Linked DNA regions of Homo sapiens. The protein of the gene in region 1 interacts with the protein of each later gene in a biochemical or structural test. Each region holds a gene or a part of one and is shown on either strand. Other genes may lie near its edges. The genes, in order: BAG6, USP13, SGTA and AMFR.

Evidence for each region.
Region 2: the proteins of BAG6 (region 1) and USP13 form a complex in vitro, tested with the Homo sapiens proteins (one study listed by BioGRID).
Region 3: the proteins of BAG6 (region 1) and SGTA form a complex in vitro, tested with the Homo sapiens proteins (4 studies listed by BioGRID, with this or other methods).
Region 4: the proteins of BAG6 (region 1) and AMFR form a complex in vitro, tested with the Homo sapiens proteins (2 studies listed by BioGRID, with this or other methods).

Annotation. Positions count from the first base shown.
Region 1 is NC_000006.12:31,638,515-31,642,692, forward strand, and holds the end of BAG6 (large proline-rich protein BAG6), read right to left. Parts: intron 3,890-4,178; coding exon 3,598-3,889; intron 3,432-3,597; coding exon 3,262-3,431; intron 3,079-3,261; coding exon 3,025-3,078; intron 2,909-3,024; coding exon 2,806-2,908; intron 2,715-2,805; coding exon 2,590-2,714; intron 2,425-2,589; coding exon 2,278-2,424; intron 2,191-2,277; coding exon 2,131-2,190; intron 2,015-2,130; coding exon 1,871-2,014; intron 1,793-1,870; coding exon 1,685-1,792; intron 1,133-1,684; coding exon 986-1,132; intron 713-985; coding exon 617-712; 3' UTR 514-616; downstream 1-513. UniProt on the Homo sapiens protein: ATP-independent molecular chaperone preventing the aggregation of misfolded and hydrophobic patches-containing proteins.
Region 2 is NC_000003.12:179,760,999-179,768,042, reverse strand, and holds part of USP13 (ubiquitin carboxyl-terminal hydrolase 13), read right to left. Parts: intron 6,932-7,044; coding exon 6,788-6,931; intron 4,042-6,787; coding exon 3,875-4,041; intron 2,349-3,874; coding exon 2,195-2,348; intron 1-2,194. UniProt on the Homo sapiens protein: Deubiquitinase that mediates deubiquitination of target proteins such as BECN1, MITF, SKP2 and USP10 and is involved in various processes such as autophagy, endoplasmic reticulum-associated degradation (ERAD), cell cycle progression or DNA damage response.
Region 3 is NC_000019.10:2,759,269-2,766,312, forward strand, and holds part of SGTA (small glutamine-rich tetratricopeptide repeat-containing protein alpha), read right to left. Parts: intron 6,018-7,044; coding exon 5,918-6,017; intron 4,490-5,917; coding exon 4,385-4,489; intron 3,377-4,384; coding exon 3,238-3,376; intron 2,255-3,237; coding exon 2,192-2,254; intron 27-2,191; coding exon 1-26. UniProt on the Homo sapiens protein: Co-chaperone that binds misfolded and hydrophobic patches-containing client proteins in the cytosol. Mediates their targeting to the endoplasmic reticulum but also regulates their sorting to the proteasome when targeting fails.
Region 4 is NC_000016.10:56,415,546-56,422,545, reverse strand, and holds part of AMFR (E3 ubiquitin-protein ligase AMFR), read left to right. Parts: intron 1-7,000. UniProt on the Homo sapiens protein: E3 ubiquitin-protein ligase that mediates the polyubiquitination of lysine and cysteine residues on target proteins, such as CD3D, CYP3A4, CFTR, INSIG1, SOAT2/ACAT2 and APOB for proteasomal degradation.

The DNA.
Region 1 (4,178 bases):
AGTGTGCACCTGGAATATGCTCCCAACTCAAAATACAGGTTTTTTATTTATATATAAAGTGCTTTCGCACAAAAAATACAAACATCAGGCTGGGCGCGGTGGCCCACGCCTGTAATTCCAGCACTTTGGGAGGCCAAGGCGGGTGGATCACAAGGTCAGGAGTTCGAGACCAGCCTGGCCAATATGGTGAAACCCTGTCTCTACTAAAAATACAAAAATTAGCCGGGCGTCGTGGCGGACGCCTGTAGTCCCAGCTACTCAGGAGGCTGAGGCATGAGTGAGAATCACTTGAACCCGGGAGGTGGAGGTTGTAGTGAGCCGAGCTCGAGATCGGGCCACTGCACTCCAGCCTGGGAGACAGCAATACTCTGTCTCAAAAAAAAAAAAAAACAAACATCAAAACTGGCTTGTACAATTTAGCGTGCTGAGTAGAACACAACAGTGTTCCAAGGAAGTATTAATTTAAAAAAGTTCACACAAGATTAAGGGACACACTACCTAATGGAGACAATGTAGAGAGAAAGCAGCCAGAAAAATCCGACTTTTATTTCTTAAATACTGTGAAGGAAGAGGGGGGAAACGGTCCCCTGATGAGGAAGGGCCATAGAGCAAAGAGCTAAGGATCATCAGCAAAGGCCCGCTGGGCATTGGGGAAGCGCTGGGGACTGTAGTTGGGGTCTTCCTGCAGTCGTTTTTGTATATCAGACCGGAGCTAAAGAGAAAAAGTAAGCAGGTTGGAGAAACGCTGGCCAAGTCCCCATGATCCCAGCAAGCACACAAGGCCATCCCTCAGAAGCTAACATTTCCCCCCCCAAGCACACTGTCAAATAGCCCGGGGTGGCACTGTCAAGCCTTCCCAGATGCCAAAGGGGAAAACAAATGGTAGCACCAGGCTGACCAGTTCATCGCTGAAGGGATCCAGGGAAGAGGGACCCTAGCCCAACCCCTCCCACTAGACCATCCCTATTCTGCTTCAAGGTGGCACCTGCTGCCTGTAGCTCTCCTGAACCTCTGGTGCCTCCAGGTCCCGGCTCAGGCTCTCGGGGCTCGTCAGGGGCCGAGCTCCGGCTGCCTTAGCTGCCCGGCTCACAGCCTCTGAGAGAAGCAGCTGGGGGCCCTCACCCTGCATCGTCTGGGGGACAGGGGGTTGGGAGGGAAAAGAGGATCAACGTCAGATCCAGTGCCACCATCCGGCTCACCCTTTCCATGAGTCAACCACTCCACTGAGTCTCCATGCTAGTGGAGAGAGGGGAAATTAAGAGTCCAGGATGTGGTTTTTACAGCAGAAATGCCTTCCTAATTCTCTTTGGCACTAGCCAAAACTAAAGTGAATGTGCTTGAACGTGCTCTTCAAAACGAAAGGCAGAAGGGGTCAAGCCATCCGGGATTCAGAGCTAGGTAATCCACAAGAGGAAACCCACCTTAAAGGAAAATGGGATCTAAGCACATGGGGATTAGGCAGCTGAGCAACTAATACAGGACTGCTAGCAAACAGACTAAGGTCAAGTCCTGTATGGTTATGCAACAACCAAGAGCAAGTCTGAATCCCAGAAAAAGTTTCCTCATTAAACGAGGGGAGGGGAGACTGAATAACAAGAGCTCCCACCATCTCTACATAGTTTGATTCCAGGCATGACGGGGAAACCTGGATAGAGAGAGAGGCTTAGGGAAGAGGAAAACCAACCTTGCGTCTCTTGGCAGGCATACCACTGAGGTAGGCATCACTCAGAGGGGGCTGCGGTTTCACCTTCCGCTGGCTCTGAATGTCCTGCTGGATAATAGGGACCCATTCCTGGGGAGGAAAAGAGAAAATAGTAATGTCCTTGACTTTCAGCTGCCATGACCCACTGGATTACTTCCTGACACTTACTGGGGGGACTGCAGCTGCCCAAGGTTCTGTCTCAGCTGAAGCTCCATCCTGTTCATCCCGGGAGCCCCCCTCAGGAGCAGGAGGTGGACCTCGGGACATGGCCTCTTCTGCTGTTGTTCCAGGGGCTGGGGAAGCATTCTCCCGCTGGGTGTCAGATGGCGGGAAGAGCCAGGCTTCAGAATTTTTAGCCTCCAAACCTTTCTCCCCCAGCCCTCCACTCCACATTATCTGGCCCCTCAACCTCCCCCTCTCTAGAGTACCTGAGGCTCAGGGGAAGCTCTTTCTGCTCCCTGAACTTCCATTGGCTCCTCAGGAAGTGGCTGTGAAATTAAAGAACACCATACTTCCTCTCAGATCTCTCCAGTTCTCTCAAGTACCCTGACCCCATCGCCCAACAGGTCCCTTACCTGGGGGGGATCACCAACCCTGCGAACGTATCTGAGAATGGCATCAGGGCCTACAGGCATGTGCTCCAGTACCACCTGAAGCCTCAGTCCCATCATAGTGGTCAGCCAGCTCACCAAGGAGGGATTCACCCCACGAGACATACGACGCTGAGGGACAGAAAGCAGATTTAGAACACAAAACCCTCAACCACCTTTAGAAATAGATTAGATCCAGGTTACAGAATGTCAGTTTAGAAAAGAAAAATGAAAACTGCAGAGAATGGAAACCTCAGGAAACAAAAGGCTAAGGATCTGGGGCTAGGTGGTGCTTACAATTCGGCCATTGATAACAGCAGCAAGCTCCATCTGCTGTCCCCCCAAGCAGTGCAGGTTTAGGGCCAGGCATTCAAACAGGCCTTGGTTACACAACTCCAGCAACCGGGCCCCAAATCCACTATCTGTGGGCAAAATACAAGGAGGGAATGCTGGCACGTGGCAGCCCTGCACATGCAACAGGCCCCACTTGCCCCCGCCTGGCCAGCCCCTGACCTGTGCAATGCAGCACATGCGCAGCAATGCTATTAAACTGCTCTTGGAGAAATTCCAGGTTTGTCCGGATGATGTCCACACCTGGCTGAACCTGCACCAAGGACTGAGAGACAAGATAACACAAAGATCCCAAAATCAAGAATCATAAGACTGGGAGTGGAGGAGGCAGCTGCCTTGACCAGACCCAGGAGAGGAAAGGAATAGAGAAGGGTTACTCACAAAACTCTCCCGCACATACTCTTCTAGCCCCGTGATCAATGTGTGGGTTGCCATCTGTGGAGGAAACAGAACAGGTTTAGTTCAAAGCCTCAGTCCTCCCAAGACTTCCACCTCGACCCCAACAAGTCCAGGGCTTGTGTGGGGGCAATTGGAGCTTTACCTGGCAGAGAAGCAGTCAGAAATAAGGAATAAAATGTGCAAAAGAGGAGAGTTCTGGGGCCCCTGGCCTTCATTTACCCGGATGTTACTGGGTGTGGGCTCCTGACCACCCAGGTAGTGCTGGTGGAAGAAGGATCGCAGCTGGGGCTGGAGCCGTTGTAGTGGCTGGAAATGCCCATGGAGAAGCATCACTACGTCCACCATAGAGAAGTTCTGGCACAGAAGAGAAAGCAAGGCCCCAAAGAATCCTGGGGGACAAGGGCAGATGTTAGCAATGGCCTTTACCACCTGGCCTGCCCACCCACAACCAGATCATCAACCTCATCCCACCTTGGCAACACCCCTAAACCAAGGCCATCTACATTCCTCTGGCTGCCCCTTCCTGGAGCAAGCCAAAGCATCCTTTTTGCTCACCAAGGGCCCCATCAGCTCCAGGCTCAAAGATGTTGCTGGATCCACTGAGGCGTTGTATGAAGGCAGCAATACTTTCACTGCTGCCAGCCCGAGCCCCCAGGGAGCCCAGCAGGGAGCTGAGCACACCCTGCACCACTGAGGTAAAAAACTCCGGTGACAGGCTCTCAAGACCCAGGCCTCCAGGACTCCCTGCGCCACCAGAAGGGGAGCCTGGTGGGGGCATGGTCTGCTGCTCTGGGGCAGGTGGTGGGGGTGGAGGAGGTGGGGGTGGTGGAGGGGCTGTCTGTGTTGCCTGGCAAATAAAGAAAGAACAAAGAACAGAAAGTGAGGTGAGAATGAAGACACACGGAAATAATACGGCATCAAGAGGGCACAAACCAACGGGTCTGGGAAGATGGGGAGTTACATTCTGATCTTCACTGCTTAAAGCAGAAGTATGGTAGGTATTTAACAGAGTCAGGCAGCACAACTTACCTACCTCTTCCTCTGAACAGGCTGTCAGAAAGCAGTGACACTAATTACTATACTTTCTTTTTCTAAACCTCATTTTCTTCATCTTTAAAATGAAAGGTTCAGAGTCA
Region 2 (7,044 bases), on another chromosome or scaffold:
GTAATTTCTGAAAAGTAATACCAGATACTTTAAATGAGTATGGAAATTGGGAGAACGACATCTCATCCTTTCTTATCCAGTTGGCATTGAAACAGTTTCAGTGATGAAATTCCTATTTTATATTAAAAAAAAGAAGAAGACAGTTCCCTCCCACCGTCTCTTTCTATCTGTATATGAATACGTACATGTTAGGTCTGGAAAGAACATTAATGAGTAAATCTGCCACTATATGATTATAGGAACAAATGCTGCTAGTGTAGATTTAGTTAAATACAACTGTTATTTACTCAGTACTTTCTATGTGTCTAGCACCATGCTAGACACCATGAGTTTTATAAAAGCCAAATGGCCTCTGCCCTGGGCAAGCTCCTAGTCAAATGGGAGACACAAATACCTACAGAAGTAATTTTATTGCAAGATCAACTTGATACCTCCAACAACAGAAGAACTAACAAGGGAGCGTGGTGGCCCAAACCTGTAATTCCAGCTACTCGGGAGGCTGAAGCAGGAGAATCGCTTGAACCTGGGAGGTGGAGGTTGCAGTGAGCCAAGATCGTGCCACTGCACTCCAGCCTGGGTGATGGAGTGAGACTCTGTCTCAAAAAAAAAAAAAACCAAAAAAAACTAACAATGCATTACAGTGGCTACAGGCACAGGCTCTGGAGGCAGACTGCCTGCACTGGAATTGTGGTTCTATCCATCACTAGCTATGAGACCTTGACAAGCTATTACTTAGCCTTCTCTATCTCAGGTTCTTCACCTGTAAAATGGGGATAATAATGGTATGTACCTCATAAGGTTACTGTGAGGATTAAAGATGGCACAAATGGGAGTATTTTTCATACTGGTATAATTATTGCTAGCATATGAGGTAAGCATGAGCTGATTATGACAAGGATCTAGGAAGGCAGTCCAGAGAAATGGAATCTGTGGCCAAGTTCTAAATAATGATGAGAATTTTAGTGTGCAGTGATGGGAGAGAAGGCTCATTTCACAAATAGGGGTTAACCTGAGTCTGCAGGTTAAGTGAGAAGAGAGTTGTTGACAGCTGAGTAGGCTAAGAGTGTGGCTACAGTCCCAGGCATCTCAGCTGCAGGTATAGGGAGTATAGAAGTGACACTGGGAGACCAGGTGGCCTGGATCTGACTGGAGGAGGTGCTGAATGCCAAGCTAAAGAGCCTGAATGTTATTCTACAGGCAATGACAGCCCAAGAAACAGGATATCACAAAGGTTAAGAACAAGGATTCTGGGTTTGAATCTTGGCTCCATCTCTTAAGAGCTGTGTGGCCTTTGGCAAGGTACCCAAGCTCTCTATGCTTATATTTTCTCACCTGTAAAATCAGTTGTAGTGAGAATTACATGAGTGTTGATATGCAAAGTGCTTAGAACAGTGCCTGGCACATAGTGACATACATAAGTGTTTGCTATTAAAAGGCAGAACAACGGCCTATGGCGCCTCTTCCTGTCATCCTGAGACACCCCTTCAGGATATTATTAGTAGTTGGTACGGGTAACGATATGATCAAGGATGAGACCACTTTGCTACTACTCAAAAAACACTACCATGAAAACAAATGTTCTCTTTTTGACAAAAGCTCCCATGGTCCATGAAGAAATTTTACCTCAAAGGAACAGACAAAATCAAAGTTGGCCCTAAACTTGGGCACAAACATGACCAAGCAACATGATTCTGACATGACTTTATCAGATCACCGGGGCCTATGCAAAGTGGCAAACTGCACCATTTCTAAGAAGATGGGATCTGGCCAGGCATGGTGGCTCATGCCTGTAATCCCAGCACTTTGGGAGGCCGAGACAGGCATATCACGAGGTCAGGAGATCAAGACCAGCCAGGCCAACATGGTGAATCCCCGTCTCTACTAAAAATACAAAAATTAGCTGGGTGTGGTGGCACATGCCTGTAATCCCAGCTACTCGGGAGGCTGAAGCAGGAGAATGGCTTGAACCTGGGAGGCGGAGGTTGCAGTGAGCCGAGATCGCGCCACAGCACACCAGCCTGGCAACAGTGTGAGACTCTGTCTCAAAAAAGAAAAAAAAAAAAAACGAAGAAGATGGGATCTGTGCTAACTTTTGAATGATGGCAAAGGCTTGACTATGTTGTGGTGGGAGGGAAGGGCATGAGCTGAACGTATAGTTCTGACTGCTCAGACAGCCTCTAAGGCAAGAACTTACTTCCAGATCCATCCTTGACTCTAGGTCCTTCGGGCTTGGCCTCAGAAATAATGTTTGCATTGGCATTATTCTCCATCTCAATCACAAAATCACTGTCTTCTTCAAACTCAGGGTGGCTAAAGATCCAATCCAGTGCTCTTTCCAGGTTATTATTCTAACAACAAAAAAGAAACAGATGTTTTTACAATGCATGCAGCCTCAGGCCTCACTATGTCCTGACCATTTCAACTAGATGTCAGGCAGATAGGGAAGGAGGTCTGAATTAATTAGTCCTAAGTGCCACTGAGTAAGAAGCTCTGACTCCGCATGACAGGCACGTTCAGTTGGCATGGCATTCTGCAAGTCTCCCAGCTGACATCTGTAATTGGATTCACTGGAAAAGAGTTCTAAGCAGCAGATCAGCATTCCAAAGTTTATATCAATGTTAGCTCAGCTTTTCTGCAGGAAGATGCTGATAATAATAGGTGTGGAATAACCAAGGGTATGGCATTTGTTTAAGTGCAGCTCTTTCTAAAGCCACTTTAATTGCACACACTACCTTCTCTACCAACTGTATTTTCTGCAGATAACTGAACAATAGAGGGATGCCAGTGTGGTATTATGTTAGAGCCTTCTCTCCTGGAATGTTGGTAAAATGTTTGAATTCCAGTAAAGACAAGATTAATATCTTGATTAATGACAACAACACTGATTAGTTAAGTATAATTGTTTAAACTGAACTCCATGTACTTCAAACTAATTGACCATAAAAATATTTCCATCTTTCTCAGCTTGTGATATTTCTGGCAGGTTAAAGAATTTGTATAGATATAAAACCTCTAATGAAACAGTCAGGCAAATAAAATGAGTGGAGCACAAGAAAGTACCCCAAGTAAAACAAACTCTGGTTGAGATATTTTAATCATCTTAAAGGGAGACAGGTTGTCCTAGCCACATCCTCATGAGACAATCAAGAGCCACTGTGACCTCAGCAACGGATCCTAGCAGGCACCCCATCAGGATAGGCAAGAAGTAATTGAGAGCAGATATCTACTCAAAAATGGATTATGGTGTGACCAGGAAGGATGGGTTTTGTTTTGTTTTTTAAGTACCTTCCCTCAAGATTAAACAGATATCAGCACTGCAGAAGGGAATTGTCTACCCTGTAGTTTCAGAGTCCCTTGTTTCTTGGTATCAAGAAGTTCATGGCTACCAGAAGAACCTTCTCTTTCTGCAGAGAGAAACAGCAGCAGAGAATTCCAAGGAGCCATTCAGTTTTCTATGAGGACTTTTAAGAGACATTTACCCAAGGTCTTGGTATCAGAAAAGCATTCTATCTCCTAAAGGACTTCTTACTGAACATGGAATTTCATGCATCCCTCTTTCCTCTAGGGCCACAAGCAGCCTCCAAGTCAAATTTCTGACCCCCTGTTAACAAACATTCAAGATGATATCAAGTTTCTTTCAGTTTGCTCATATTACCCCAGATTTATTTATCTCATTCGCTGTGTGAAAATCATTCATTTTAGCTTTATATTTATAATATGCAAATAAATCTTTATGGGCTATGATGAGATTCACAGTTAGATGAATCAAACATGAATCAAAATGATCAAAGTACATTGGAAAGTCTCAACTGCTACAGAAATAAATTCACACACACACACACACACACACACACACACAGTCTCTCATGCTCACCGTTGCTCGTAGTGCCTGAATAGCCTGATTTCGCTGAAATCCCATGGAGGTGATGATAGCTACGATTTCCTCTGGAGGTTGGTTATCCAGTCCAGAAGCACCAAAAACAGAGGCTCCAGCAGAAGCTGCCCCTCCATAACCAGGCATGGTCAGCGGCTCAGCAAAATCTGAGAAAAATAACCACACCCAAGTCTTTTCCTTTTTTTTTTTTTTTTTTTGTCCTGAAACAACACTAACAAGGAAAAACATGATTCTACAAAGTTATAATAATCAAGACAGTCTGGGCCAGGCGCAGTGGCTCATGCCTGTAATCCCAGCACTTTGGGAGGCCAAGGCGAGTGGATCGCCTGAGGTCAGGAGTTCGTGGCCAGCCTGGCCAACATGGCAAAATCCTGTCTCTACTAAAAATACAAAAATTAGCAGGGCATGGTGGTGCACACCTGTAATCCAGCTACTTGGGAGGCTGAGGCACAAGAATCGCTTGAACCCAAGAGGCGGAGGTTGCAGTGAGCTGAGATTGCACCACTGCACTCCAGCCTGGGCAAGAGAGCAAGGCTCTGTCTCAAAAAAAAAGACAGTCTGGTACTGGTATATAGGCAGACATATGGATCGATTAAATAGAATTGAGATTCCAGAAATAAAACCATATACCTGTGGTTAACTGATTTTCAACAAGACCATTCAGTGGGGAAAGGACATTATTTTCAACAAATGATGCTGGGACAACTGGATATCCACATACAAAAGAATAAAGTCAGACCCTCACCTCACATCATACACAAAATTAACTCAAAATGGCTCATTGACCTAAATATAGGAGCTAAAACTATAATAATCTTAGAAGAAAACACAGGAGTAAGTCTTTGCCATTGGATTAGGCAATGGTTTCTTATTTACAACACAAAAAGCACAAGTGATAAAAGAAAAAAAAGATAAATTGGACATCATCAAAATTAAAAATGTTTGTGCTTCAAAGGATACCATCAAGAAAGTGAAAAAACACCAGAATGGGGGGGAAAACACAAATCATATATCTCATAGAAACTCGTATCTGGAATTTGTAAAGAACTCTTAGAACTCAATAATAAAAGGATAACTTCATTAGAAATGGGCAAAGAATTTGAATAGACATATCTCCAAATAAGATATACAGTCAATAAACATACGAAAAGTTGTTCAACATCATTAGTCATTAGGAAAATGCAAACCAAAACCACAAGATACCACTTCATACCCACTGGGATGGGTATGATAAAAAAGATAATAATAAGGGTTAGTGATGATATGGAGAAATTGGAACTCACATTCATTACTGGTGGAAATGTAAAATGGTTCAGCCACTGTGTAAAACAGTTTGGTCGTTCCTCAAAATTAAATATAGAGTTACCATATGACATGGCAATTCCACTCAAGAGAAGTAAAAATAAATGTCCATCCACACAAAAACTTGTAAAAAATGTTTATAGCAGCATTGTTCATAAAAGCCAAAAAATGTAAATAACCCAAATGTCCATGAACTGATAAAGATTAATAAAATATAGTATACCCATAAAATAGACTATTATTATTGTTATTATTATTATTATTTTAGATGGAGTCTCACTCTGTTGCCCAGGCTGGAGGGCAGTGGCGTGATCTCAGCTCACTGCAACCTCCGTCTCCTGGGCTCAAGCAATTCTCCTGCCTCAGTCTCCCAAGTAGCTGAGACTCCAGGTGCCCGCCACCATGCCCAGACAATTTTTGCATTTTTAATAGAGATGGGGTTTCACCATGTTGGCCAGGCTGGTCTTGAACTCTTGACCTCAAATGATCCTCCTGCCTTGGCCTTCCAAAGTGCTGGGATTACAGGCGTAAGCCACCAAACCCGACCCAACAGACTATTATTTTACCGTAAAAAGGAATGAAGTACTGACACATGCTACAACATAGATGAATCTTGAAAGCACTATGCTAAGTGATAGAAACCAAACACAAACGACCTTTTATTATATGACTCCATTTATATGAAATGTCCAAAACAGGCAAATCCCTTGATCCAGAAAACAGATTCGTGGTTGCCAGGGGCTGGGGTGAGCAGGAAAATGGGGAGTGACTGCTATTATGTATGAGATTTCTTTTGAAGGGTACAAAATGTTCTAAAATTTGATAGTGGTAATGGTTACACAACTGTGAATTTATGAAAAACCATTGAAATGTACACTTTAAACAGATGAATATATGCATTATAGCTTAATAAAGTAGATAAAAGAAAAAGCTAACTAAACATCCTCCATTTCTTCATGCCCATGTTTCCATTTCAAATTTTCATCATCGCTTAGTTAGAAGTATATCCCGTATCTTTCTATTGGTCTTTTTGCCACTGACTTATACACTTTAAAGGGATGAATTATATCTCAATAAAGCTGTTTGGGGTTTTTTTTGTTGTTTTTTTGTTTGTTTGTTTTTTTGAGACAGAGTCTCGCTCTGTCACTCAGGCCAGAGTGCAGTGGTGCAATCTTGGCTCACTGCAGCCTCCGCCTCCTGCGTTCAAGCGATTCTCCTGCCTCAGCCTCCTGAGTAGCTGGGACTACAGGTACGCACCACCATGCCCAGCTAATTTTTGTATCTTTAGTAGAGATGGGGTTTCACTATGTTGGCCAGGATGGTCTTCATCTCTTGACTTCGTGATCCGCCTGCCTTGGCCTCCCAAAGTGCTGGGATTACAGGCATGAGCCCCCACGCCTGGCCTAAAGCTGCTGTTTTTAAAAAAAAAAAGAAGAAGAAAAAGACTGGCTTTCTCCTCCACTGCAGGAGATTAGGAACTATAAAGTCATTTTCTAGGGATACATCCACAGGGACCTTGGAAGGACCAGGACTCAGCATCACTGAGGGTCACATCAGACTCCAAAGCCATTCCATTTTCTCGCCACCTACCTGGCTCTTCCATGTGAACAATGATCCAGTTGAAGGCCACCTCGGCGCCCATATTTCCAGTGAAGTACACAGCCTTGCGACATGCTTCCAGCGGGAAACCCATCTCGGCCAGCTGCATCACTGATGACTCATCGATGTCTGATGCTACAGAGCACAACAGGATATTCTAGTGTGAAAGAGGAAACTGTCGCTTCTTGTCTTAGCTACTCTCCACTCTCCTATCCACATGCTACCCAAAGAAAGTGCTATTCTGTTGG
Region 3 (7,044 bases), on another chromosome or scaffold:
TGGGGATTGTTCATTAGGTTCGAAGCCTGAAGAACAGAACAAATTTGTCAGGAAGACAAAGCTCCCAGCGCATCATTCTCTTTCATCAGACACTTTCCATCTTAACCAGCCTTGGTTCTGGACTCCAGCACGCCAACCAACAGTAAGAGCCGGGCATTCGGTCTTTCATACCCTTTTCCCTACATTTTCGCCCCCCCACCCACGAGCTGTGACCTCCACATTGTGACTTAAATCCTGTTTTGGGTTCCTGCTTCAGGAGCGATCTCGCAGCGCCACAGCGCTCTCTCACTGGCTGCTGCGGTTTTGCTGTGTGGAGGCGTTTTGGTTCTTTATTTTAGCTGCTGTCTGCTTTAGCATATTTCATTTAGCATATTTGGTTCCAGTTTTGCTCTATCAATAAATAGCACTGTGGCTGGGCGCGGTGGTTCACGCCTGGAATCCCAGCACTTTAGGAGGCCGAGGCAGGCAGATCGCTTGAGGTCAGGAGTTCGAGACCAGCCTAACCAACATGGTGAAACCCCGTCTCTACTAAAAATATGAAATTAGCCAGGTGTGGTGGTGCATGCCTGTAGTCCCAGCTACTTGGGAAACTGAGGCACAAGAATCGCCTGAACCTGGGAGGGGGAGGTTGCAGTGAGCCGAGATCACACCGCTGCACTCCAGCCTGGGTGACAGAGTGAGACTCTGTCTCAAAAAAGAAGTAAAAATAAATAAATAAATAAATAGCACTATACTGGGCACTTTCTCATGTTAACTTTCCACTTGGGATTATTCCTTTGGACCTGTTGAAAGGAGGTGGCTCAGAGGTGTGGCAAACTCTCTGTGTAAAGGGCCAGTGTGTAAATACTCTCAGCCTTTTCAGACACGGGTGCCTGACGCAACTACTCAGCTCTGCCGCCGTATCATGAAAGCCACCAGTGACACTAGGTGTATGAATGGGCATGGCTGTGTGCCAATAAAACTTTATTGGTCAGGTGTAGTGGCTCACACCTGTAATCCCAGCACTTTGGGGGGCCGAGGCGGGTGGATCACAAGGTCAGGAGTTCGAGACCAGCCTGGCAAACATGGTGAAACCCCATTTCTATTAAAAAATACCAAAATTAGCCAGGCATGGTGGTGGGCACCTGTAATCCCAGCTACTCGGGAGGCTGACGCAGGAGAATCGCTTGAACCTGGGAGGCGGAGGTTGCAGTGAGCTGAGATCACACCACTGCACTCCAACCTGGGCGACAGAGCGAGACTCCATCTCAAAAAAAAAAAAAAAAAAAAAAACCAAAAAAAACTTTATTAACAAAACCCAGCGGCGGGCCTTATTCTGCCAACCCCAGATGTCTGAAGGGAAAAGGCGTCTGTGACATGGCCAAGCTGAGAGGCCCCTTGAAAGACTGGGGCCCAGTCACCCTCCATCCCATGGTGAGGGAGAACATATTCCCCTGGCAGCTTGGCCAGCGGACGAGGGCTACAGTAAGAGGTGTGGCCTCTGCTGAATGGCACGACCCGGGCAGGGCTCCTGGCCCAGCTGGCTCATTTTTCTGACTGACAGTGAGACTGAGGGCTTTTCTCCCCGACAGCCTTAGGCGAGTCCCTGTACCCTGAGGCTGTGGGAGCCTGAAGAGTGGTCCCAGGGCACACAGACCTCCCAGGAAATGAACATGTGTGTGTGGGGGATGGCTCTCCGAGGATCCCAGTCAAGGAACTCCCTGCCAAAGGCCGTCCCTTTGGAAGCATGAGTGCCCGGGCATCGGGAGGTCCACCTGCGCCCGGCGCACCCGGCGCTCTGCTTCCCTTGCCTGAACCTTAGGAGGCAGACGCTGCTGTGTTGTGATCAGTGTCTCTGCACTGCGAGGAGGAGCCCACGCCAGGGTGGGGTGGGGGTGTGACCTCCCTGGGCTCAGCCAGGAGAGCCAGCTTTTGGTGCTCACTACTGATGGGTCTTGCTTGGGACATCAACATTGGGGACACTTTTGATTGTCGAAGCAGAGGGTGGGGGTGCTCCTGACATGGGGCGGGTGAGGCCAGGGGTGCTGCCAGCGCCCTGCGGTGCCCAGGACGACCCCACAGACAAGACCCATCTGGTTCCAGAAGCCAGCAGTGCCAAGGCAAGGAAGCCCTGGCCAGTAGCGGACACAGCAGATGCGGGCCTGGGGGGTGGCGCAGACACCATGGACAGGGAGGAGGGGCGGGCCGTTACCATGCTCATGAAGCCAGGGTTGTTCAGCAGGCCGGCGATGTCGAAGCTGCCCACGCCTCCCGTCTGAGGATGAGAACAGCCCTGGTTAGTGGGGCCTGGACCAGAGGCCACGGTGAATAACCCCCTGGAACTCAGAAACAACGGCCCCCCACGGGGCTCAGACATTCTATCAACCCTGCGGCCAGAGGGTGCTTTGAGGCAGGCAGCACGAAGCACATCGCAACCGCCCGGGGACGGCACAGTCTGTCATCCCGTGTTTATTCCCCGCACAGCGCGACCGCCCGGGGACGGCACAGTCTATCATCCCGTGTTTATTCCCCGCACAGCGCGACCGCCCGGGGACGGCACAGTCTATCATCCCGTGTTTATTCCCCGCACAGCGCGACCGCCCGGGGACGGCACAGTCTATCATCCCGTGTTTATTCCCCGTACAGCGCGACCGCCCGGGGACGGCACAGTCTATCATCCCGTGTTGATTTCCTGTATTCTGCCGCTTTGACACCTTGGGGCCTTGCTGGCCTGGCAGAGCCGCCCCCTCCTGGAGTAGCCAATTCCCAGAGAAAGCAAATGACTCACCCAGAAACGCACCTTTGAAATACAAACAAACTAACCCAGAACCCACACCCTCAGCACCTCCCCCATCACCCCAGGGCCACAGTCCACCTGCCCCACTCACCCCCAGGCCAGGGACCAGGCAACCAGGGGCAGCCCCCAGGCCTGGGTCTAATGAAATGGCTCCAACCAGCCAACCCGAAGCCTCCTCACCCGGCCTCGCCACAAAACCCACATCGAGGGTCCTTTCTGTGCCCCTCCCTCAGCCTCCGCGGGCAGCCCTGCGGCCGGCCTCCTGCTTCCAGGGGTCTGGGGGCATGAACCTTCTCACGACACTCACTTCCACGCCTGTGCATCTCACCACCAACTGAAACAAACCCCGGACCCTCACGACACCCAGGTTAAGCCTAGAGCCACTGGTGCGCCCGAGGACCTGTCCCCCACCCACACAGTCAGCTCGGCGTTCTGGAGCCACTCGCCCCCGCTGCACTCACGGGGCTGGGGGCCTCCCGCAGCTTCAGCTCCGCTATCTTGAGGTTGGACTTGTATGTCTCGTTGTCGGGGTCCAGCTCCAGAGCCTTCTTGTAGTAAGCCACGGCCTCCACGTGCTTGTTGAGGCTGGAGAGCGCCAGGCTGGAGGAGAGCACCGGGGATGGACTGTTCCCATCTGCCCAGCTCCAGGAGGCCCCGCCAAAGCCCTCGTCCCCGGCGGTCCTGGCAACCCCCAAACCACCTCGGATGGTGCCACCCCCTGCCCGCTGTCAGCTCAGTGGAGACAAACCTGGCTTTCGAGGGGCCCAGGGGCAGGACTGAGGGAGACAGACATGAGAACACCCCTGCCACACAAGAACTGGAGTCCCCATGGGGCCACACACAGGGCCTCAAAGCCCAGAGCGGGCTGAGAGGAGGGAGCGGGCCAGCTCAGGGTCACAGGAAATGCGTGGATGTTGTCTTGGCCCCGCTTCCCGGCACAGGGCACCAAGGACCCTCGGAACCTCTGAGCGACAGACATGTCTCCCGTCATCCACAAGCAGCCCCTGACCCCCACCTGAGTGAGTCTTCACTCGTGAGGTGACTCAGGGCCCCTACAGAGCCCAGGAGGAGGCGGGTCCTGGGGAGACTGGGCAGTTGAACAGGGCCCCTCCCCAGCCTCTGGGGAGACCCAATCCCACAAACTCTGAGCAAGGGCATTCAGAGAAGCAGGCGAATGCACGCTTATGCTGGGAGGGCGGCACCGGCTGCACGGGGCGCAGGCTCCTGCCCCGGGGACCCTCCTGGCCTCACTCTCGGACCTGTCCTGTGTCCTTCATCATAAACCAGGTGCTTCCCTGAGCTCTGTGAGCCGCCCCAGCAAACAATGGAGCCTGAGTAGGAGCCATGGGAACCCCAGGTGACAGCCAGTCAGGGAGAAGCAAGGGGCCCAGGGATCTCCGGGTGGCACCTGATGCGGGGCGTCTGTGGGGCTGAGCCTGTGACCTGTAGGGACTACGTTGGCTCCGAACAGCTAGTGTCAGAGTTGAACTGAACCGGGGTGGGAGAATTCGTTGTGGGTGGGAAAAAAGCCACACAAGAGAGGAAGCAGGAGCAGGAGAGGAGGGGTCCCGAGAGACTGGAAAGGCGCGGCCGTGGACAGGCACTCACCCCATCCTGCCGTAGGCCTTGCTGTAGGCCGGGTCAATGCAGATGGCCCGCTCACAGTCCTGCACCGCGCCTGCGTAGTTGCCGAGTTTGCTGTAGGCTGCGGCTCTGGGGAAGAAAAGGCAGGGCAGGTCCCTCACTGGCGGCTCTGAGCCCAGCGGGCAGCCCTTGAGGGGAGCCTGAGAGCTGCGTTCCTCTCCAACTTCCTGGAGGAACGGCCTCAGTTTTCCCCATCTGTAAAATGGGGCTGATGGGGAAAGCTGAGAGGTGTGGCCACTGAGATGCTCTTAGACAAATGTGGGCTCAAAGCACCAGCAGCCACTCAGGACTGCGACTCTGAATTTTATTTGCAAAAAATGTTCCGATCCATGGCTGTACAAGAGCAATGAGGGTAGGGAACTTATACCCAAGTTTCATTCACAAATTATTTACATATCAGTAAAAAAAGAACTCAGACCAATGTCAAAGCTCAAAGCTCTTGGCTTACAGCGTCTGAATCGTCTTCACCATTTTCGTGTTTAGTGTTTCTCTTTACAATTTTTTCAAAGTACAGAGAAGAGTGAGTGGAGACTAAACTACCCCATGACAGGCGGCCAGGAACCCTGCACTGCCTCTGCAACTGTCCTGTAAGCCTGAAGCAGATCCAAGACCACACATTCAAAAAACACAACCCTCCACATACTGGATTATTTTCTTGGCTTGACATCCACGTGGAATGCCATGATACCTGATTTTCTATGTATGTATTTATGTATTTATTATTTTTGAAACAGGGTTTTGCTCTGCTGCCCAGGCTGGAGTGCAGTGACACGATCTCAGCTCACTGCAACCTCTGCCTCCCGGGTTCAAGTGATTTTCCTGCCTCAGCCTCCCAGGTAGCTGGGACTACAGGCACCCACCACCACATCCAGCTAATTTTTGTGGTTTTTTTCGGGGTTTTTTTGAGACAGAGTCTCCCTGTCACCCAAGATGGAGGGCAGTGGCGCAATCTTGGCTCACTGCAACCTCTGCCTCCCAGGTTCAAACCATCCTCATACCTCAGCCTCTTGAGTAACTGGTGGTGCCCACCACTACACCCGGCTAATTTTGTATTTTTAGTAAAGACGGGGTTTCACCATGTTAGCCAGGCTGGTCTTGAACTCTCAACCTCAAGTGATCCCCCCCGCCTCAGCCTCCCAAAGTGCTGGAATTACAGACGTGAGCCACCGCGCCTGGCCCCCAGACTAATTTTTACATTTTCTGTAGAGACGGGGGTCTTGATATGTTGCCCAGGCTAGTCCCGAACTCCTAGCCTCAAGTGATCTTTCCCCCATGGCCTCCCAGAGTGCTGGGCGTGCTACCTGATTTTAAATCAGCATCGACTCTCCCCGACCCCGTTGCTGGTCACCTGATGCTCGCTCCTGGTCTGAGACCACCGGTGAATGGATCCCTCATCTACAGCGCAGAGGCCTCTCCCATCTCAGGTCCCTGCTAAGCATCCCGGAGGACGCCCCCGCACCCGGCCGCCCCTGCCCTGGGCAGGCCCTGAGCTGGTACCTGTTGCAGAAATAGACGGCGTTGGCTGGGTTGAGCTCGATGGCTTTTCCGTAGAAATGCACGGCAGCTTCAAAGTTTTCCACTTTCATCTGCTCGTTTCCTACAGGGAGAGAGGAAAACACCGGCCCGGTGTCCACACAGACCGGAGGGGGTGTCAGGGAGAGAGGAAAACACCGGCCTGGTGTCCACACAGACCCGAGGGGGCGTCACACTTGGCTCTTCTGGGCAGCCAGGACTCAACACAGATGCCGGCTCAGGAGGCATCTGCATCTATAGGGGGTTCGCTAGTCGCAAACAATCATATCTACATCCACTAAGGGGGATGGAGGTGGGGGCGGCAGGGCCTGGCCTGGCCTGTGCCTGGCGACGGTGGCTGTCACTGCCTGGATGGCGACCCCGGGAGCAGAACAGTTAATACAGCTCACCGGCCCGGGGACGGAAACTGTCCCTTTCGCTATTGCTTTTGGAAAGAGCCCAAGTGGAGGCCTGTATTTTGGAATACTCATGTGATACCTTCTCATTTCATAGGCAATGGGGCTTCTATCTGAGGCATGGGTCCCAGCTGGTAGGACGGTAAAAACCCCAGCTGCTATCCTAGAACTGAGAGCCCTGAAGACAGAAACCCACTCCCGCCCCCGAGATCCCAATTCAGGAGGGCGTGGGGGGAAGATGGGTATCAGCGTGTGTTTCCCTAAACAGTTTTATTGAGATATAATTTACATGCCACAAAGCTTACGCTTTAAAAATATAAGCCCGGGCGCGGTGGCTCATGCTTATAATCCCAGCACTTTGGGAGGCCGACGCAGGCGGATCGCAAGATCAGGAGACCAAGACCATCCTGGCCAACACAGTGAAACCTGTCTCTACTAGAAATACAAAAATTAGCCGGGCGTGGTGGTAGGCTTCTGTAGTCCCAGCTACTCAGAAGGCTGAGGCAGGAGAATTGCTTGAACCAGGGAGTCAGAGGTTGCAGTGAGCCGAGATCACGCCACTGCACTCCAGCCTGGGCGACAGAGCGAGACTCCATCTCAAAAAAGAAAAAAAAGAAATGGGATCACATGCTGTGCGTCCTTTTGTGTCTGGCCTCTCTCCCTGAGTGTGATGTCTTCACGGTGCATCTGCGCTGG
Region 4 (7,000 bases), on another chromosome or scaffold:
CCGGAAGCTGGGCTGTTAAATTAAAAGTCTGTTGAATCTTCTGATTTAAGAGGGAGGTTGAGAAGGTGAAGAGGAGACCGGGGGTGAAGGAGGTGGGGAGGAGGTGAAGGAGGTGGGGCAGGTGGCTCTGCTGTGAGAGGAGGAGGTGAGCAACCCCCTTGAAGGTTTCTTTCTCAAAATGTGGACCTCTGGCATCCTGGTATGTGGTCATCTGGGGTACTTGTAAAATGTAGTTTCCCTGGGGATCCATTTCAGAGAGAAGGGTGGAGCCTTGGAATCTTCATTTTAATGAATGCCCTAGGTGATTTGAGGAACACTAGTGGTTGAAAAACTGACCTAGGAAGAGGCTAGAGTGTGATGTCATGTAACCTTGACCTTGCTTGCTCTACCAAGTGTGGACAGTATTTTGTGGAGTGAGAGAAGCCATTGATGGGGCTTAAGTGGGGGTGGGGCATGGAGGAGTGGGGGTGCTGGCATGATTTCTTTTAGAAGATTGGGAGCAGTGTGGAAGATAGATTTATGTAGAGTGGGAAGAGGACGGGAGATCTAGTGACCTAAAACTTCCTCCTCCCAAGGGGGCCTCTCCAGGTGGCCCTCAGGCATGACATTGAGAAAGGATTTGGGAGGAGACTTCAGGGTTTTTACACTAACAAATATGTGGGTTTGACCTGAGAATTTGTTTCTCCTTGTCTTTCTAAAACTTCCATCCTAAAGTTTCATTTCAGATGAGTTTTTATTTTGTTACTCATTTCTGGGCTATTTTACATTGCTCAGATAATGCTTCCATTCAGCTACCTCTTGGTCCATTCTAGCATGGTTTTGGATTGTTCAGGTGTTTTGGCTTTTTCATTTTTTAATTCTTACTCATTACTTTTATTAGTTCCCTTTTCTGCTTTCTTAAATATCTGCTTCTAAAATTCTAAGAGCAAGATACGTGAATGGAGAAATAGAAATATGAAACTAATGTCAAGGTTCTGACTTAATTATGCAAATAATATCATTTAAATAGAACTCTCAAGGGGAAAAATGACCACAAACAAAAGTGGATAAAAGTGAATTGACCATTTAGAACAGGGATTGGCAAACTCGTGACCTATTTGACTAGGCCTGTTTTTGTCTTAACAGCTAAGAATGGTTTTTATATTTTTAAAGGGTTGTAAAACAAATTAAATAAATTAAGGAAGTTGCAGAGCCTAAAATATTCACTATCTGAGAGCACTTTAGAGAAAAATTGGCTGAATCCTATTTTAAAGAGCCGATTTTCGTATTATTATAAAACTTAAGGGCTGGGTTCAGTGGTTCACACCGGCAGTCTCAGCAGTTTGAGAGGCGGAGGCTGAGGCAGGAGGTGGAGGATTGCTTGAGGCCAGGAGCTGCCCAGGAGTCTGGGCAACATAGTGAGACCCCCTGCTCTACCAAAAAAAAAAAAAAAATTAGTCACCATTATAATTATGTGAAAATAGGCTTTTTAAAATAAGAGTCAGCCAATTTTTCTCTAAAGTGCTCTCAGATGGTGAATATTTTAGGCTCTGCAACTTCCTTATTTAATTTGTTTTACAACCCTTTAAAGATATAAAATACCTGCTTCTAAAATTCTAAGAGCAAGACATGTAAATGGAGAAATAGAAATATGAAACTACTGTCAAGGTTCTGACTTAATTATGCAAATTAAGTGTAGTGGCCTGTGCTGTAGTCCTAGCTGCTTGGGAGGCTGAGGCAGGAGGATTGCTTGAACCCAGAAGCTCAAGGTTACAGTGAGCTATGATTGTGCCACTGCACTGCAGTTTGGGCCAGAGTGAGACTCTGGTCTCAAAAAAAAAAAACAAAACAAAATTAAGAGCTGAAAGTGACTTCCTAGGTTTTAGTCTTTATGAGTTGACTATTTCAAGGTATATGAGGGAAAAATGTTAGCTCCAGAAATGTTGGGGCAGCTGAAGGAAAAAAGACTAAACTTGTGAATAATTGGATGTGAGCCTAGATAAATTAAAAATAAAAGGAATGTCTTCCAGGTGAGGGAGAAGGGGACTGCTATTTGATCACCTCCTAGGTATGCTTTGCGTGCGGACTCTCGTCTATTTCCCTAGTCTTGTTAAAGAAGGAACACAGTTATCATCTATGTGATGAAGGGGAGTGTGTGCATGTTTGTATTATGTGTTTGTTTCTGGGAGCCTGCAGAGAGGTAACAATACGTGAATTGTCCTTAAAGGGAGGAAACCACCAAATGGTAGGGGGCGCAGGGGAGTGGTGCTGGTGTAGGCAGGAGTCTAAGAAATATCCAGATTGACCATGTCTTGGAATAGGTTCCTAGTAGTTTAATCCCATGTCTTTGCAAGGTCATAAATAAGCACCTGTTGGTGGCCAACATTTTACAGGGTCAAAAACACCTGTAGGGTTACATGGTGATAAATGCACCTTCCTCTCTTTTTCTCCCAGGCAGGCCTAACTATTTTATAATTTAGTTTCTGTTTTCTCCAGTAGAAGAGTAGAACCATTCTGGAAGGGACATTTTCCTGCTGGGCCTTGGAGTGAAGGGAATTAACTTTGAGCCTTGAGTAAGTCAGGGTTGCTGGGATCACTGCTGCCTGACCTGCTACACTCTGAACGGGGACAAGTAAAACTTGTTTTTATTTTGTGTAGACTGGAAAAAAAAGGCATTTGGTGAGTTTTTAAAAAATGACTTGAAGCTTTGACAGCACTATAGCTATGAGAAACATTCTGAAGTGTTTTAATATAGTTGAATTTTTTTTTTTTTGAGTCAGAGTCTTTCTCTGTCGCCCAGGCTGGAGTGCAATGGCACAATCTCGGCTCACTGCAATCTCCGCCTCCTGGGTTCAAGCAATTCTCCTGCCTCAGCCACCCAAGTAGCTGAGATTACAGGTGTGCACCACCATGCCCAGCTAATTTTTTGTATTTTTAGTAGACACGGGATTTCACCATGTTGGCCAGGCTGGTCTTGAACTGCTGACCTCAGGTGATCCACTAACCTTGGCCTCCCAAAGTGCTGAGATTACAGGCATGAGCCACCACGCCTGGCCATAGTTGAAATACTGTGCTGTAACAGGAGAACTTGTTTTGGTTTGTTACTCATCAGTTTGTCATCATATGGTGAGAAAAATAATGTGGAATTGCAGAACTAGTCAGGTTAGTTTAGTAGATTCTAAACTTTAAAAAAATTTTAAAAAATAGATAATGCATGCTCAGGGTACAAAAGTTAAGGGGTACAGGCCTGGCATGGTGGCTCACACCTGTAATCTCAGCACTTTGGGAGGCCGAGGTGGGAGGATCACCTGAGGTCAGGAGATTGAGACCAGCCTGACCAACATGGTGAAACCCGTCTCTACTAAAAATACAAAAATTAGCCAGGCATGGTGGCAGGTGCCTGTAATCTCAGCTACTTGGGAAGCTGAGGCAGGAGAATCGCTTGAACCTGGGAGGTGGAAGTTGCAGTGAGCCAAGAATGCGCCGCTGCAGTCCAGCCCGGGCGACAGAGTGAGACTCTGTCTAAAATTAAAAAAAAAAAAAAAAGTTAAGGGATACAGAAGTGACATGCAGTGAAAAGTAGATCTCTCTCTCTCCCTGTTACCTGCTTCTCTCTTCCAGAAATGGCAATTATCAAATTCTTGTAATAAGTACTGTTGTTAAGTAGGAGACTAAGAAATACCCAAATTGATCAAGTCCTTGACAGTTCACACCTACATATTATACAAACGTGTGTGCACATATTTCCTTTTTTTTTTTGAGACGGAGTCTCGCTCTGTTGCCCAGGCTGGAGTGCAGTGGCGCGATCTCGGTTCACTGCAAGCTCCGCCTCCCAGGTTCACTCCATTCTCCTGCCTCAGCCTCCTGAATAGCTGGGACTACAGGCGCCCACCATGTGCCCGGATAATTTTTTGTATTTTTAGTAGAGATGGAGTTTGACTGAGTTAACCAGGATGGTCTCGATCTCCTGACCTCGTGATCCGCCCGCCTCGGCCTCCCAAAGTGCTGGGATTACAGGTGTGAGCCAGTGCGCCTGGCGTTTTTTTGTTTTTTGTTTTTTTTTGAGATGGAGTCTCACTCTGTCACCTAGGCTGGAGTGCAGTGGCATGATCTCGGCTCACTGCAACCTACGCCTCCCGGGTTCAAGCGATTCTCCTGCTTCAGCCTCCTGACTAGCTGGGATTACAGGAGAGCACTACCACCCCTGGCTAATTTTTGTATTTTTAGTAGAGATGGGGTTGCACCATGTTGGTCAGGCTGGTCTTGAACTCCTGACGTCGTGATTCTCCCTCGTCAGCCTCCCAAAGTGCTGGGATTACAGGCATGTTCCACTGTGCCTGATTCAGGGATTTATTTTATTTTAGTTTACTTTTTTTAAGCAGTTTTTTTTTTTTTTTTTGAATCAGAGTCTCACTCCGATTGCCCAGGCTAGAGTACAGTGATGCTATTTGGGCTTATTGCAGCCTCAACCTCCCTGTGTCTAGGGTGATTCTCCCACCTTAGCCTCCCAAGTAGCTGGGACTACAGGCACACACCACCATGCCTGGCTACATTTGTTGTGTTTTTAGTAGAGATGGGGTTTTGCCATGTTGCTCAGTCTGGTCTCGAACCCCTGGACTCAAGCAACTCACCCACCTTGGCCTTCCAAAGTACTGGGATTATAGACATGAGCCAGTGCTTTTAAATGAGGAATGCTCCAGTTATGTTTCTTTCAGTATAGGTTGAGAATACTTTATCCAAAATGCTTGGGACCCGAAGTTTTGGATTTGGGATTTTTTTCCTGGATTTTGGAATATTTGCATATACATAATGAAATATTTTGGGGATGGGACCCAAATGTAAACATGAAATTCCTCTGTTTCATATACATCTCATTCATACACATACCCTGAAGGTAGTTTCATTTTTCCCTTAGGGACACTGAGTAAACTGTTGTAAGTCTGCATTTTGACTGCGACTCGTCACATGAGGTCAGGTGTGGAATTTTCCACTTGTGACGCCATGTTGGTGCTCAGAAAGTTTTGGATTTTGGAGCATTTCAGATTTTGGATTTTTGCATCAGGGTTGCTCAATTGTATTTACAATTTTTCAAGCCTTTGTTAACTGAAGTTGAGAAGTTATATGTATGACACAATATTATTTATTTATTTATTTGAGACAAGGCCTCACTATGTTGCTCAGGCTGGAGCAGTACAGTGGTGCAATCACGGTTCCCTGCAGCCTTGACCTCCTGGGCTCAAGAGATCCTCCCACCTCAGCCTCCTCAGTAGCTGGGACTACAGGTGCACACCACCCCACCCGGCTAATTTTTGTATCTTTTGTGGAGATGGGGTTTCACTATGTTGGCCAGGCTGGTCTTGAACTCCTGAGTTCAAGCAATCCCCCCACCTTGGCCTCCGAAAGTGCTGGGATTATAGGTGCGAGATACTGTGCCAGGTCAGTATTTGTAATTAACATATAATCATTATAATTAAGGTATTTTTCTATAAATAGACATGGAATAGTTATTAATAATCATTAAGGTGTTTTAAAAAACTTTGCTTATAATCTTAAAATAAGGATTGCTTTCAATCCTTTGTAGCTTTGGTTACAAAGTTCACAACAGCTTATCTACTTTTTACATAAATTCCCTTTTTAGTATCAGTATACTCAGACTTTTTTTTTTTTTTTCCTGGTTAGCCATGTTAATTTTCAAATCTTCATTTAAATTAAAATAGGAAGTGGTTGTTCTATGGGTGATGGGATTATAAGAGACTTTTACCTTTTTTTGGATAAATTAAAGATACACATTTTTTATACCTTATTTGAATTCAAAGACTTATTTAGGCTGGGCGCAGTGGCTCATGCCTGTAATCCCAGTACTTTGGGAGGCCGAGGCAGACGGATCACTTGAGCCCAGGAGTTCGAGACCAGCCTGGGCAGCATGGTGAAACCATGTCTCTATAAAAAAATTCAAAAATTAGTGTGGTAGCTCACACCTGTAATCCCAGCTACTTGGGAGGCTGATACAGGAGAATAGCTTGAACCTGGAAGGCCGAGGTTGCAGTGAGCGGAGATTGCACCATTGTGCTTTAGTTTGGGCAACAGAGTGAGACTGTCAGAAAAAAAATAAATAAATAGACTTTTATTTAAAGAGTTTGAGAAATAGTAAATAATACTTTATTTTTTATTTGATAACTTAAGATGTGTGTGACAGTACTGTTTTGAATAGAGAAATGTTTAAGTGACCCTAAATTTGTTTTTTTTCTCCATCATTACTCTCGTAGTAGCCTGCTTGGCCTTCTGTTAAATTGCTTACCATGCTCTATCTCTTGTAGATTCTAAAAGCTCTTTGAGTTTAGGGTTCAGAGCTCCCTCATTTTTCTGATTTCCCACATGCCTCGAACAAGTGCTAAATGTGTTGCATTTATTTTTTAAATTCATATGACTGACTACATGTAAAAACGGGAAGAATTATTTTAAGAAATTGCGTCGTAATAAAGCTGGGGCATGTTTGGCTGGGGGATGTGACATGAGGGGTTGTGGTTTTGTCTTATGACATTTCTCTTAGTTAATGTGGCTGAGATTGGTTAGATCACAATGAAGGTGAGTCTTTTTAGCATCTATTTCATCACCTTAAAAATGAACATTTCAAGTTACCTGAATTGTTTTTTCTTTTTAAAAAATTTTATATATTTTTCAGTAGGGGCAAGGTTTTGCTGTGTTGCCCAGGCTGGTCTCAAATTCCTGGCCTCAAGCAGTCCTCCCACCTTGGTCTCCCAAAGTGCCAGGATTACAAGTGTGAGCCACCATGCTCCTGGTGATCTGGACCATTTTGAATAGGTCTGTTACACAGATTAGGATATTTGGGGCAACTAGTTTGGGCGTTTGTTCCTGGTTGTTTGAAGGATTTAAGTACCAAAACAGTTTATTTCTTTAGCAGAACTATTTTCGTTTCAATCCTTTAAAAATGTATTACATACTTCCTTGGCCCATTAGGCAGACAGAATAGAACTAAATTTAATCATTTGTAATGAATCAG